Regions from separate parts of the Homo sapiens genome. Here region 2 is linked to region 1. The links come from fine-mapping of genetic effects on gene expression. Tissue or cell type: thyroid. Region 1 holds a variant in brackets; the other region holds the start of a gene. All regions are shown on one strand. Distances are between the middles of the regions.

The links. PIP is the estimated chance that this variant, and not a neighbour inherited with it, causes the effect.
Region 2: SCTR-AS1 starts here. The variant in region 1 is fine-mapped to the expression of SCTR-AS1 in thyroid (GTEx, PIP 0.97).

The regions. Positions count from the first base shown.
Region 1 is chr2:119,439,437-119,447,541 of GRCh38, forward strand. SCTR (secretin receptor) reads right to left here. Exons shown (of 13, transcript NM_002980.3): 11 at 7,323-7,449; 12 at 2,122-2,163; 13 at 407-821. The coding sequence ends at 681. Among named protein-coding and RNA genes, the nearest start is that of TMEM37, 12 kb to the left of the region's middle. The variant G/A (reference allele first, on the strand shown) is at 3,958.
Region 2 is chr2:119,471,980-119,480,079 of GRCh38, forward strand. SCTR-AS1 (SCTR antisense RNA 1) reads left to right here and starts at 4,475. Exons shown (of 2, transcript NR_147847.1): 1 at 4,475-4,979. SCTR (secretin receptor) reads right to left here. Exons shown (of 13, transcript NM_002980.3): 3 at 6,832-6,939; 4 at 1,474-1,577. RefSeq lists enhancers at 1,690-2,241, 2,792-3,342.

The DNA.
Region 1 (8,105 bases):
TGCCCCATTTCCTGCTGTGTCTGCCTCAGGCCGAGGACATCTGTGTGGAAGAGCAGGAAAAATAGGGGTGTCCCCCTCACACCCTGTTGGGGGTAGTAAAAGGGGGGATAGTAAAAGGGACTGGGGGCCCTGGGGCTTCCCTGGCCTCCGTGGTGACTTTATCATATTATTTTAGCTGTTGTCCTGAAGGTTTGGGTGAGAGCTGCTAACCAGGTGAGTTACAGTAGGAGACAGACAGCATCCGCCAAGGGCAAACATTTCATGTTGGCTGGGCCTTCTAATCTGGTCCCTGAGTAACTGAGCTGGGGGACCAGGGAGGAGCCCGCCTCCTGCGGGAAGGCATTGGGAGCAGGCAAGAGCGTACACCCTCACCTTGTGTCAAGGCAAAAGGATGGACAAATATAGATTGAATCTCATCCCAGGCACCATTTATTTCCCTGTCCCTTTCTGGGACCCCTGAACTTCTCTTCCCAGAAGAGCAAACGAACCAAATCCCAGGCCCTTGTCCTGCCCCACAGTGCCTCACATCCCTTCGGAAGAGTCCAAGGCCTGGGGAGGGGCATCTTCAGCTGAAGGAGGACACAGGGTGTCTGCTGGGAAGACTGGCTGTCCCACAGCAGTGCCCAGCCTTCGCAGGACCTCTCTTGGTCTCTGTCCGTGGGTGACCCTGCTCCAGCCTCTCAGATGATGCTGGTCCTGCAGGTGCCCTGGCTCTGCTCCAAGTGGCTGGCCTTGGTGCTGTTGCTGAAGGAGGCCACGGGGTGCAGTGGGAACTCACGGAGGTGCCATTGCTGCCACTTCTTCTGAACCTCCAGCTGCACCTGCCCGGGAGACCAGCCATCAGCCCAGGAGGAGAGGACAGTTCTGTGCCTGGAGCCCTGCTCACTCCCCCAGTGACTCCACGCAGGCCCTGCCACTCCTGCCCAGCTGCCCTGTCCCCTAGCCTGCAGGCCACGCAGATTGACTGTTTCCAGCCCCAATGTCCAGTAGCTACTGAGGGTCCCCTCTCTCCTGGGCACATGCACCTGCAATCTCATTACATCGTGTCTTAAAGAAAGGACTTGTGCACCTTGGGACAAGTGTGTGCCCTTGACATTACAAGAGCAGTGGTGGGGAAAGCTAGCTCCCTGGCCCCCAGGCTGAGAGGAAAAGAATCCCGGATTAAGCCAGAGGCTGAGTTCTCTGAAGGTCTGGGGCACTGACAGGGGCTACTGGGCAGAGGGCCAGCTTAGAGGAGGGTGTGGTCTGAAGGTGTGGGTAGGGCAAGGCCTGACTCCACTCAGTGATGGGTCCCCAGTGATTTTAAGTGATTTAAGATGGGTCCCCACTTATTCCCAGGAAGCCACCCAAGCTCAGAACTGATCTGGGAACTAGGGAGTTTCTCTTTGTAAATTTCCTTCACAATTCCCAGCTGCAGCAGCTGAACCTTTGAAGCTAGGCTTGATATTTGATTTTTGGGAAACATCAAAGATCACTCCCATTCAAGTGCAACAAACCAGATAGATGGTCAGTAGTCACAGAAAGCCTTAGCTCATGTTAACCACATAGCTCTGTATGCCCAGAGCCTGGGGTCCTGACCCAGATGCTCCATGTGAGGCTCGAGTCCTCAAAGTGAGTGTGCAGTCTCCCAAGGAGTCAGTGCTCATCTGGAGGTCCCTAAGGATTGAGCTGCAGACAGTTCTGAGTCACCCGTTTCACATATGGGCAGACTGAGGCCCAGAACAGGGCAGTGACTGAGATCGCCCATTAAGCAAGCAGCAGGGCAGTCAGGAACCTGGGTTCTGCCCAACTTTCCTCCTGCATTTGCTGAACAGATCAACATCGGCACCAGGAATGCTTGTTAAAAAACACTTTCTCAGACCCCAGTCCAGACCTACAGAATTTATTTCTGTGGAATGAGAAACTAGGAACAGGGTCCAGCCATGGTTTGAACAAGCCTTGCTCCCATTAAGCAAATTCAGACTCCTAAAAGAACTGGCCAAGCCACCTGCCACCAGACCCAGGACTCCCTCTGACCCTTTCCATCCCCCTTCCTACCACCCCTCCCAGGTAGCTCCTTCTGACCCGGAAACCAATGGCTAGGAGCTCTCCTGGGTACCTGGGTGACCCAAGACTACTCACCTCCCCATTGAGGAAGCAGTAGAGGACGGCCACCACCAGTCCCTGCCAGAAGAAGAGAGGTAGCAGGGTTAGCACAGGTGCTCAGCATGCGGCCTGAACCAGCTGGCCAGCTGCACCCTCCCCAGGTCTCTTAATCACCAGCTACAGGCTCATTTCCCCACCTCTCTTGCCTCACTGGGAATTAGGCTACCTCTTGTGGGCTGCCCACGGTGGCCCTGGCTGTGCTGGCTCATCCAGCATAAACTGTGAACTCCTTGCAGCCAAGGGTAGGCTCCCTTTTGAACACATATGGTGTCAGGGGGGCTGCTAACCCAGCCAGCCGGGATCAGGAAGCTCACCTGGGAGCCACAGGGATGGGTGGCACCTGAAGTCCGCCCACTCTGCCAGGAGGAGTGCAGGCTGCCCAGGGTGAGACCCTGGGCCCTGTGTGGTCTTATTTCAAGATAAACTGGAAATCTGAATATGTTTAAATGTAGATAACTAATTCAAATTGAAAAACAAATGTGTAGGCAGAACAAACTATGTACAGGTCCCGGCCAGCCAGTGGTGAGCAGGGTTGGAGCTCCCTGCTTAATGGACAGGTGGGTGCACCTCCGTGCTCAGAGTTTTATGTTCCCTGGTGTGGCAAGGTCTGTGCCTGTAAGACCCTCCCTCCCTGGTATTTGGAGCTCCTGATTTCCTGATGGTGCCCCCAGGATCCTGGTGTGGAGCTCTGTCAGGGGAGGGACTCCAGGCTGGGGCGCCTGCTTGGAGCCTAAGAGGCCTCCAGATCAGCAGGAAGCAGTGTCTCTGCGGCGCATTCACCCTGCTCCTCTCCTTTCTCAGGGACCCACCTCAGGCCACCCTTCTCTCCCTTACGGGCCTGCCCTCCCCACACAGAGGCCTGACCTCAGATGGCCCAACTCCTCCTCCCTAGTCCCACCCAGGCCTGCCTGTAGCTACTTATGATATTGGAAAGGAACCTCGAAGGGTGATGAATCAGCTCATCGATGGTGGGCTTAATATGTACAACTTCTCAGGGATATTGGCATTTTAAAAAGAGTTAGTGGCGAAGCTGGAAGGGTTTGCTTTAGAATTTCAGGTATCAATGACTGCTACATAGACTGGGGACTATTTGAGGGGCAGAAACACTCAGGGCATCGGTTTCCAAGTATTGCTGCACATTAGAATCACCTGGGACCTTTTATCCAGGTTGCACTCCCCAGATCCCAGTAGCTGGGGGCATCAGCAGCTTTTAAAGATCCCCACACAGTTCCAAAAAACGGGCATCATGGTCCGGGAACTACTGTCAGAGAGGGAGTAAAAGGCACTTCAAGGCAGGCTTTGAAATGAAACAGACTTGGATCGGAGCACAGCTAGGCCTGAGTAATTGTAGGTCCCAGGTGCTTCATTTAACCTCGCCAAAGCTCTCGGAGGCAGGTGGGAGGATCTTCACCTCACAAGCGAGGGAACTGAGGCACGGAGGGGTTTAGGCATGCCTGGAGCTCTGTGTGCTTGGCCCAGAGCCACGAGCAGGCCAAGGATGCTGCCCGTTGCATGGGCTAGGGTTGCCTGGCCTCCGCTGCGCTAGGGTCCAGGGACACATTTTCACTGTTCAGGGGAGGGAGTTAGCTGTGCTCCAGTGTATATAGGGCAGGCCTCACACAAGCCAGCAAGTTTACTAATTTCCACCGTGATTCTGCGATCATTAAGGATGAAGACTTTGAAGAATTTTAATGACATGAAGAAATGCTCATGATGGGCATGATAGAGAATTAAACAAAACAAGCAAGATACAAAACCATACACATCATGATCCCAATTATGTGTGTGTATCTTTGTGGAAAGAAAAGAGAC[G/A]GAAGTAAACACACCAACACTTTAACAGAAGTTATTTCTGGGTTATGACGTTCTAGATTTTTTTCTTATTATTTTTCTTTTTTTGAAAAACTTTTCCTTATTTCCCAAATTATTCACAATAAGCAAGCATTATTTATACAATTAGAAAGAGTGAATACATATTTTTTTTTGGAGACGGAGTCTCGCTCTGTCACCCAGGCTGGAGTGCAGTGGCGCGATCTCGGCTCACTGCAACCTCTGCCTCCCAGGTTCAAGCAATTCTCTTGCCTCAGCCTCCCGAGTAACTGGGACTACAGGCACACACCACCATGCCTGGGTAATTTTTTGTATTTTAGTAGAGACAGGCTTTCATCATGTTGCCCAGGCTGGTCTCGAACTCCTGAGCTCAGGCAATTCGCCTGCCTCGGCCTCCCGAAGTGCTAGGATTACAGGCGTGAGCCCCCGCGCCCGGCCATAAATACATTTTTAAAGAGTATATGACAGTGATGGTGTTATTACAGTTGTATGTGTTCTTCTTTAAGCCCCGTCTTTTAGAAATGCACACTAAACTCTTTGAAGATGAAATAACATGATGTTTTGAATTTACTTAAAAAGATGGGGGTAGTAGGTAGGGATGGAGATGAAACAAACAGGCCATGAGTGGATACCGCTGAGGCTGGGGATAGGTAATGGGGTTCATTGTCCTATTCTCTTCACTTTTGTATATGAAAAACATTTTCTCATGTGTGTGTATATATAAGAATATATATACATATTCTTATATATATATACACATATGTATATATACATATGAATATATACACATATGTATATATACATATGAATATATACACATATACATATGAATATATACACATATACATATGAATATATACATATATACATATGAATATATACACATATATACGTATGAATATATACACATATATACGTATGAATATATATACACATATATACGTATGAATATATATACACATATATACGTATGAATATATATACACATATACGTATGAATATATATACCCATATACGTATGAATATACACATATATATACGTACGTATATATATACACATATATACGTACGTATATATATACACATATATACGTACGTATATATATACACATATATACGTACGAATATATATACACATATATACGTACGAATATATATACACATATATACGTACGAATATATATACACATATATACGTACGAATATATATACACATATATACGTACGAATATATATACACATATATACGTACGAATATATATACACATATATACGTACGAATATATATACACATATATACGTACGAATATATATACACATATATACGTACGAATATATATACACATATATACGTACGAATATATATACACATATATACGTACGAATATATATACACATATATTCGTACGAATATATATACACATATATTCGTACGAATATATATACACATATATTCGTACGAATATATATACACATATATTCGTACGAATATATATACATATATTCGTACGAATATACACATATATTCGTACGAATATATATACATATATTCGTACGAATATATATACATATATTCGTACGAATATATATACATATATATGTATAAAACTTTAAAAGATCCTTTTTCTTCATCAACATTCGTATGAGAACATCAGGAAAGTGCTTTTGATTTTCTCTTGGCAAGACATTTTCCTAGAGAAGTAGTCCACAGTCCCAACCATTAGCCCCAACTCTGAGGGACAGGAAGTCCCCATCCATGGCCAGGCAGACCCGGGTCCAAGCTCTCAGCATGGTCCCTTTTCTGAGCCAGGTCAAGTCCTTCCACCCGACTGGTCCTCAAATCCTCTACCTGCTAGATGGGCCATTGTGTGCCCAGCCTCCCTGGACGTTACAAGAGCAGTGGTGAGGAAAGCTAGCTCCCTGGCCCCCAGGCCGAGAGGAAAAGAATCCTGGATTAAGCCAGAGGCTGAGTTCTCTGGAGGTCTGGGGCACTGACGGGTTACTGGGTAGAGGGCCAGCTTAGGGGAGGGTGTGGTCTGAAGGTATGGGTAGGGCAAGACCTGACTCCACTCAGTGATGTGTCCCCAGTGAGGCATCCTCCCTAGAACCTGTAAGTAACAGGAAGACCCTACCCTGAACAGAGCTCTAGGGATGAGGGGAGGGTTTGAACCCCTGCTCGCAGGCCGAGGCCACCCCAGTGAAAGCTTGGCTGGACAATATCGCCCTACCGTGGAAATGTCGTTAAGGACTAAGTCCTTTAAAAAAAACTACTGGGAGAATTTTGTCTCAGGCCTAGAGCCTATAATCACTGGCTTCTCCCGGCCGTTAGTTTGATTTTGTCTTATGGATATGCGAAATTTTGAAACAATTGTTTTGTCTTTGCTTTGGCTACTGGGAAGCTCCCTATCATACTTATGACCCATCTCTCCCTCCTGTATAGAACTTTATCGTATTTGTTTCTGTGTAGCAACCCAACCAGTTGTACATTCTTTTTTTCACTGATCCTTCATCGACTTATTTTTTGTCCTTTGTATGTTTTTCCCAAAAGCGACATTGCATTATTTTTGGAAGGAAATAGCTATGAGTAAATAAACAAACGGCATTGTGAAGTTTGGGATTCACGTTCAGGCTCCCTCTGCCCAAACACGTTTACTGTTGTTGTTTTTAAGTTCACAGCATCTTGTGGAATTAGTAGGTAAGCGCTTTTCCACCTCACTTTATTTTTTAAAGTCAGTTTTTAGTTTTAATAATTTGCATATGCACATGGTTTCAGAGAATCAAAGGATTCCTGTTACAGAACCAGCAGCCTCCTGACACCCCACCCTCACTTCCTTTTCCTCACATGCGACTGCTCCTTGAAACTCTCTTAACTGCTTCTAAAAAATATGCTGGTGTCGCCACTTGAGGAGTTTTCAGTCTAGGGCATTTTCTATGGACTTCCCAGTGTGAAGATGAGGACAGTGTTCTCTTCCAAACACCCGCCCCACGCTCCCGCGAGGCTCATCTTCCCGCCCCAGTGTTTGATGACTTGGCCATCCGCGCTTACGTTATTTTGACCATGTATATGTTATTGAGAGTTGTACAATATAGTGTACTGGGGCTACTTTTCCTTTTTATTTTCCCTGAAGTCAGTCTCTCTGTCTCTCTTAGTTTTATCTCCCACCCCCATTTGACTGGTGGGGACCAGGGATCCCACTCAGGGACCTGTAGCACTGTCAGGTCCGACCCCTTCTTCCCCTGGGTCTCTGCCAGATAAGGCATCTGGCTCGCAGTCTCTATGCCCTCCACTTCTCCCTAAGGACACAGAGAACTCCTCTTTTCAGCTGGCAGCCCCAGTCCTGGAAACTTACCTGGAATGAGCCAAGGGCTAGTTCAAAAAACAGCTGGATCTCCATAGCGTCCTCTGGGGAGAAGGCGAAGACGATGTAGTGGATGCCAAAGAGGGGGATCAGCAGGAGAGTGGACCTGGCCAGGCGCCTGGGGACACAGAAAGCCTGTAGCCTCCACTCTGCCTCCCTGCGCCCTTTCTCCTCCTGTAGGCACACAGCTGTGCCACTCCCCAGCTCGGGACTGACTGCTGAGGCTGGCTAGCAGTACCCCAAACTTTTTTGTTTTCATTTTTTATTTTGAAAGTTTCTAACTCCCTCATATCCATCACTCAGATACAACAATTTTTGACTCATGGCAAAGCCCCAAACTTTCTGATCATGCACCTCCATCAGTAAAAAGAAAAAAAAACGGTACCTACACCATTAACTTTATTTATAAATTACGTGCCTATATCACTGCTGCTCTATGTCTAACATCATACAAGCAAAGCCGGCTTTCTCATTTGCTAGATAATAAATATCTGTAGGGACAAATTCTTGTATTTTCTTCCCAGATTAGGGTTGCCAAACTTAGCAAATAAAAATACAGAATCCCCAGTTAAATCTGAATTTCAGATAAACAATGGACACCATGTGGGGGTATAAATATTGAAAAACGATTTGTTGTTTATCCAAAATTCAAATGTAACTGGGCATCCTGTATTTTACCTGGCAACTTTATCCCAGGTCCCCAGGAATCTGACACCAAGTAATCTGAGGCACTGTCAGATTCTCAAAACACGAAACACCATGGAGAAGGTCTCT
Region 2 (8,100 bases), 33 kb after region 1:
CAAACAAATATTTATTGGGCACCTCATAGGTGCCAAGCATTGTGCTGGGCACTGGGGCCTGGAAATGAACAAGACTCTCTGATTTGTCACCGTGATTTTGCCCAGACCCAACCCTGGCCCACAGCAGGTGCTCAGTGAGTGTTTGTGGAGTGAATGAATGCCTTTGAGGAGCATGTATTTTAGTGAGAGAGATGGAGGCAGGTGGCACACGCTGATCATTTTAATGTAACATGGTAGGTAATAGTTGGAGGCCAACACCAGGCTCTAAGGGAGCCCTTCCCGTGGGGAGGGGAAGAAAGGGCTGGCATGGATGGGCCCGAGGGGAGTCTCAAAGGATATATAAGAATCAGTCAAGAAAAGAGAGGAGGAAAGTGCTCTCCAGGCAAGGGGCCCTAACGGGGGCAAAGGCCCAGGTGGGAGGCAGGATGGCACAGTGTGCATGAGATTTGAGAGAAAGGGCCATCCTGGGAAAGGACAGTGATGCAGAGTGAGCTGAGCCCAGACAGGGCCCTGATGGCCACCCTCAGAGGAAGCCTCTGGAGGTCCCCAGCAAAGGTCAGCCGATTGCCGAAGGGAGCATCCCCTCAGCTAGGGCAGCTCTGCAGCCGGACTCCCTCCTTGCTTATCAGAGCCGGGAGACTCCTTCGAATGCTGTAAACATTTTTTTTTTTAAGAGACAGGGCTCAATCCTGTCCTCCATTGCCCAGGTTAGAGTGCAGCGACACAATCACTGCTCACTGCATCCTCAAACTCTCCAGCTCAGGCGATCCTCCTGCCTCAGCTTCCTGAGTAGCTGGGACTATAGGCACGCACCACCACGCTCAGCTAATTTTTAAACATTTTTTGTAGATCCAATGTTTCACTATGTTGCCCTGGCCTCAGGCAATCCTCCCACCTCATCCTCCCAAAGTGCTGGGATTATAGGTGTAAGCCGCCACACCCGGCCAAAAGCAAACATTTACTGAGCACTTACTGTGACCAGGCGCCCAACTCAGGATGCACATATATTAACTCATTTAGTTCTCTTGACAAGCCTATGTTGTCAGCATTATTAACACCATTTCCCAGATGAAGAAAGTGAGGCACGTAGTGATTAAATCTTCCCCAGCCCCACTAAGGTCAAGGTCGGAATTCAGACGCACCAGCCTTGCTCTGAGCATTTAGCCACTATGTTAGCGTCTCTTTCAGTTGAATGAATACAGCACCCCCAGTCTCGCGGTGGTATGCGACAGTTCCTACCTGTGCCTGGGTTCCTCCTAACCATCATCTCCGGGTCGATAGACCAGGGCAGTGAGGCAGACCCACTGACACCTCTGTGAGTAGGAGGCATGGGGACAGGGGGTAGCCCTTACATCCTGACCACTGTCCCAGGCCTGTGCCACCCTGTCCTCTCCCAGGGCCTCCTCTCCCAGGGCCTCCTCACCCTATAGGTTCCTGTCCCCGGGTTCGTGGGGTGGAGGTTGACAGGCTTACCCGCTTCTCGTTGGAAGAGTCGTTCACATTAACGCCACAGGCCAGATTAGGCCTGGGGAAGGTTTCTGACCAGCCATCCTGTGTGCAGTTTCGGAACAAGGAACCTGTGGGTGCCAAGAGTCCTGTAGGTGAGCCATGGGCCCAGGCACTGTGATTTTCATAGTAACATCTATTGTAACATGTAGCTGCTACAACCACTCTATAGTGTGGAAACTGAGGCACACAGCAGTTCCAGAACTTGCCCAAGACCACACCCTAGTAAATAGGGGGAAAGTGATTTGAACCCTGGGGCTCGGGCTCCAGAGCCCAAGCTCTTAAGCACACACCACGTGCCAGTCCCCCTTCTCACCCCAGCCGGGTGCTGCTCCTGATCCCAGGCCCTGCCACCGTTTAACAGGTGGGTACCCCGGAGAATCTGTGGTGGCTGCCCAGTACCTGGCCACTCCCATCATGACTTTTTCTCAGGCTCCCATTTTTACTCATCCTGCTCCATGGAAGTTCTGTTTTAAATGGAACTTCATGCCCTGCTCACTCAGCCATTTGAAAACCACCAGAGTGCCATTGAGATGAACCCCTCCAGGCAGCGCCCCTCACGGAAGGGTGGAGGGTCCTTCGGCCACGACCTGTAGGCCACCCCTCTGCATTTCTCTGCATAATAGATCGTGAGACCACCACAGTCCTCCGGCTCAGCTGCTCACTGCCCCCCACCCCTGGCACGAGGACGCATGCTGGGCCCTCTCACCACATGGGCAGTGGCTTCCCCGCCTCCCCAGTGCCTGGCCCAGAGCCTCTGCTTATCAAACGCGGGCTGGCTGGCTGGACAGAAAGGCAAATTGAATGGGGATAAAGAGCCTGCCCTGAACTCTTCTCATAGGGAAGAGGAGAGCACTTCCCCACTGGAGCTTTTACAGCAGGAGCCCAGCCTGCGGAAGGGAGCCACTAGCCAGGAGGGAAGTCTTGGAAGGCCACCGTGAGGAGTTTCCCTCCTCGGGCTGAATGGCCTCGCTGAATTCTGTACTCTGAGCTGCCAAGGAGGGCTGGGATCTGGCTCCCCAGCTCAGGCCGGTGTAAGTGTTGCAGGGGGCAGGATGCTGATGGCCGAGTCCTGTGGGTAGGAGCCCTGCCACCCCTTTGCTCTCACTGGAGCCTTAACAGCCCCAGCTGAGCGTGGCATGCTTCTTTACACAGTCTCCAGGGGCTGGGCCCCTGGCTAACAGGGTTTAGGGTCTAATCCTCACAGTGCCCCACTGAAGGAGGTGCTGCTGCCCATTTTACAGGACAGAACACCAAGGCCCAGAATTGAGCTATCATGCCCAGCCACAGCGTATGCTATCACTGTTCTACCCACCCACCGGGCCCTCTTCCTGAAGTCTCAGGGGCAGCGTCTAGGACCAGGAGACCGTGTCCTCTGAGATCTGGGCATGCCTGCCCTGTGGAGGCTCAGGAGGCCTGGAGCGCAGGTTTAGAAGCAGCCAGATCTGAGTCTGAAACCCAGTGCAGCCTCTTGGTCACTGTGTGACCTTCGGTGCATCATTTCTCTGTGCCACAAAATAATCACCCACACTGCAAGAGTGAGCAGGGAACATGAGAGCACACGGAAAATGCCTAGGCTGGTGCCAGGCACAGAGCGGGCACCGAGGCATCACTCCCCTCTCTTTTTGGCCTTTCTAAAATAGGCAGAAGTGGGAGGGGCTTGGAATCTTGGAATTTAGGCGAGGGGTGGGGAGGTTTCTGGAACTGAATCAAGAGAGTTAGGTTGTCAGATGGGAAACAACGGTGGTCAAATTTAGGCTGGGTGGATGGGAAAGCAAGTTAAGGGAACACAAATTCCCCCAAGGCCAGAATCGAAGGTTATAAGACAGCGCGTGCCTAGAGGCTGGGCTCCCTGTGGGCTCGCCCAGGGCAGCAGGCCTGCCCGTTTGGGGCCCTCTCCTCACTGACACAGCAGGACTCCCAAGACAGATGCTGCATGTGACCCAGGCCAGGTGCCCAGAGCTGCTAACAAGGCAGGGCCCCCTGCCTTCCACTCTGTAGAGCTGCAAAGCAGCTGCCTCCCCACTTCCCCAGGGCTGAATTCCTAATAGGTAAGGGAAACTTAACCAGGCACAGGCCAGTGTGCACCTCAGGGGACCCCTGAAAGGATGTTTGTGCATATATATATATATATAGATGTAGATATTTATATTATATATATAATATAAATAGATATTTATATTTATATTTGTATTATATTATAAATATAAAATAAATATATATATTATGTGCATATATATAAATATATAGATATATAGATATATATTTATGCAGTTCGGGGAAAGACTAGTCCAAAGCTTTCATCTGATTTTCAGAAGGCTCCGGGACCCTAATCAGGTTGGGAAGCATGACCGCTTTAAGGCCAGATCCTCACTAAGTAGGAAGAGAAAGAGGGCCAAGGGGATGCCGCTGGGGAATTGTGTTTTTTAATAAGGAACTCTGGAAGACCAGCGTCCTTTTCAGAATCAAAGGAATACACCCTAGAGGGAGCATTCTAGGCCTGGCATGAACAGAAACATCTGGGGGCAGAATCGGCCTGCGGTTTCTCCAGTCACATGGACCCCACCCCTCCTGTCAGGACCCATGTAGTAGGTGCCCTCAAGGAGAATTAATTTATTTTCCAGAGCACCTTGTCCTCACTGGGCGCTCCCCCTGGGGTTAGGGTTGGGGGCACCACCTAGGGAAGCCTGCCTTCCTGCCGGGAGATGAAGGGGCAGGAGTCTAATCAGACCCAGAAGTAGATCTATGGGGATGAAGGAGGGGTGGGTGGGAGTTCTTGATGATAAATTGAGGCCAGACAGCTGTTGACCTGTGCTCTTGGGCCACCCACCCCCAGGCTGGGTATGAACAACGTGGCCCCCACCACCCTGGAGGGAGCCCAGAGCCCAATAGGCAGGCCTTTGGTGTGGCCCTGCAGGCCCACAGCGACACCATGTGGCGGCGAGAAGAAACTGCAGCAGAGTCGGCACAGGACCCCAGCTTCCATCCTCACGTTGTGTGGACATGGTCCAGCTTCCTGCCGCGGACCATGAGCAATCCAAGGGTAGGGGAGCCTCAAGAGGGAGACACTGAGCCTTTACGTAATGAGGCAGGGAGGGGTTCAAGCAATTAATTGAGAAAGGATGTGACAGGACTGGCACCTGGTCACTTTGTGGCCGTGAGCACCAGCTCCGCCTATCCCCTCTGCAGGGCAGAAGGGACAGTGCTGCGGGAGGCGGAGGTGCTGTGGCTCTGGGAAGGCTGAAAAGGGACGGCTGCAAAGGAGAAGAGCTTCGAGTCCTTTCCATCAGGAGAAAAACCCGGTCAGCTGTGGAGGAGCACTGCACAGGAGTCAGAAAGTGGAGTCTGGGCGTGACCTTGCACCTGACCAGCCTGGGGCTCTAGGTCCGCCACATCTGGACTAATCTCCTGTGTCCTGAGCTCCCAGGACCCCAGAGGCAAGCATGGAGGGGCCACGCTGGCAGGTAAAGTTGGTAAGCTTGCGGGGGTGTGTGTGGCAGGGGTAGGGGAGGGAAGGTGGGAAGGAGAAAAAGGAAAAGAAGGGAGAGGAGTAGGGGAGAAGGGACAAAATTTATTTCCAAGCACAGCCTTACAGGGCAGGTCTTATTTATTTTCCCCATTTTACAGTCAAGAAAATTGAGGCTCCCCAGCAGTGAGCAACTTGGATCCCGGGGCTGACTGGCACCCAGCTAAAAGACATTTCCCCAGGTCCCTTGCAGTTAGATGTTGCCATGTGACTGAGTTCTAGCCGAGGGAATGTGGGCAGAGTGGGATCCTTCCCAGGCCCGCCCCTTATGAACCTCTGCTGTGTGGTCCTCCGAGTTCTTTCCTCTCCGCCAGTCAGCCTGGAAACTATGTGATGCCACGGTTGTGAGGTGTGGGGTGCTGGGGTCACCGTGTAGAGGAGAGCTGCCTGCTAATCAGGAATACCTGTTTCCTGTTCTGGACGTTTTTTGTTTGTTTGTTTGTTTGTTTGTTTGTTTGTGACAGAGTCTCACTCTGTCGCCCAGGCTGGGGTGCAGTGGCACGAGCTCAGCTAACTGCAACCTCAGCCTCCCAGGTTCAAGTGATTCTCGTGCCTCGGCCTCCTGAGTAGCTGGGATTACAGGTGTGCACCACCACGCCTAGCTAATTTTTGTACTTTTAGAAGAGATGGGGTTTCACCATGTTGGCCAGGCTGGTCTCGAACTCCCGACCTCAGGAGATCCGCCCACCTCGGCCTCCCAAAGTACTGGGATTACAGGTGTGAGCCACCGCACCCAGCCTGTTTTGGACTTTCTGTGGACAAATTTGCATGAAGGCTTTGAGATGTGGGGCATTGTCTGTTACAGCAGCTAGCATTACCAAGCCAGGAATTGGAGGAGCGGGTTTCAAGCCTGTCTACCTCATTTCCCCCAGTTCCCATAGTGTAGGGTGTTGAGTGAGGCTTCGAGGGAGCAGCATGTTCCCCAAATATGTGTGTGTGTGCACACATGTGCGTATGTACAGCAGAATTATGGTGAGAAGAATCTCCACTCCCTTCCCACAGTCTCTGAACCGTGGTCATCTTTGCCTTGCCTGACTTTGAAAGGCTGGTGGGTTTTAGTGTTAAATCACCTATTCTTGTTCAGGCTTCATCTGGCAGCTTTGCTGTCCTGCATGGACCAGGAAAGAGGGGCAGCTGCACAGCTTTTCTCAGTCCCTGTTATTATTACTCTTTACTGGATCAAGGGAAAAGTCCTGTGATCTGCAGGGGGTTTATGATGAATAAATGAGCCCGTATGTACATATAAAAATGTCCAGTGCATGGTCGACTTCTAATCAATGTGAGTCAACTAGGAAAATTCTTAAATCCGCAGCTGTCTTCTGGTAAGACAACCCCTCGCCCCAGGAGGCCAGGGGCTCCCAGGGAGCCAATTTCTCAGCAGGGCCTGACAGTGGAAGGAAGTATTTTGGAAGGCCAGGCCATTAGGGAGCCTGCCACTACCAGGAGGGGTTCCAGACATGGGGACTGGAACAAGGCCCCTGGTTGCTAAGGGGGCAGAAACATGGAAGGAAGGAAGAGAGCTCCTAGCTGAAGGGCCTGGGGAAGACAGAAGCAGGCCCAGCCTCCCTTATCGCCTTCCCCAGTGCACTGCCTCCTGCCCCCTTGCTTGACACCCTCAGAATTTGAGTCCACCCCACATTCCCAAGCAAGGCTTCTAATCCTTTGCAGTGATCTCCCCCATCATTGTACCCATACTTGTCCTCAGAGAAGGTTCCTTGGCCTCCTGCCTCTAAGCTGAGGCCCCACCCAGAGGGACACCCCTCAGCCTGTCCGCCAGGCCCCATGGGCCGAGTGGTTACCATTTCTGCTGGTGAGCATCCGGAGGAATCTCGGGCATTCCACCTCCACCATCCGGCCCGGCACAGAAGAGGGCCAGCAGCTTATGTTGTCCCACATCCCCTCACAACCTGCCAAGAAAAGCAGCATCAGACAAGGATGGGGGATGGACCGAGGGCTGCCCTACCATCCTGTCCACATCACCGACACCCTTGCCTGCCTGGAATTCCCACTAGACTACTTTCAAAGCTCTCATTAGGTGCTGACTCCTCAGGATCAGGAACCTATCCTGTCTAATGCACCCTTGGACTCTGCCATGTACACGGTAGTGCTCAGTGTTGAAGATAGAAGGAAGTAAGAAAGGGAGGGAGGAAGGGAAGAAGGAAAGAAGGAAGGCGCCCTCTCCTATAAGCTTTGCAAGTAAAGGTCTGGATTTCTCTGGAGCAGATGGCACATCTGTTGGCCAATCAGTTTGCATTAAACAACTAAGCAGCAATGGGTCTCCCTTCTAGCTTCATGGTACGACTACCTGGGGAGCTTTAGAAATAGACCTAGCCGGCGTGGCACACAGGGATCCTGCATGAATTGGTTTGGGTGGGCCCAGGCATCATGTCCTTTGAAAGCCTTACAGGTAATTCTAACGTTTGACTGCAGGGTTGAGAACTCTTGTCCCATGATTCTCAAACTTCAGCTTGCATCAGAGTCACCCAGAGGGATTATTAAAACACAGATTGCTCAGTAAGTCTGGGGTGGGGCCTGAGTATCTGCATTTCTAACAAGTTCCCAAGTGATGCTGATGCTGTTTGTCCTGGGACCACACTCAGAGCCACTGCCCTGGCCTATGGACACAGCTCCACAAGTGTCACCACTGTATTTGCTGCAAGAATATTATTGAGGATGTTGCTTTCTACATCACTTGAGTTCCCTTGATGAGGCCCCTCTGGAAGGAGAACCAGGTCTCAATGCAGTGAGAAGCTGAACTTATTGTGAACGACTAGTATACATAGACACTACATTTGAAGCTGGTTTCCTCTTTGATTTGGCTGCTAGGAAGCTCAGAGCCAGATGCGTGGCCCACTTCTGAAAACTGAAAGATTTTAAGATGAATAAAAAAAATTACTAGGTGTTTTCAATGCAAAACTAGGCATTGTCTAAGCACAGCCTTCTGGATTATCTGATTCAATGGGGTGTCAGGTCTTTTATTGTCTTCGAGCTACACTGCAACTCTGTAAGTTCTAGATGATTGGTAGCAATGCAAATGATTCTCGTCCATAGGCACAATAATTATTGTC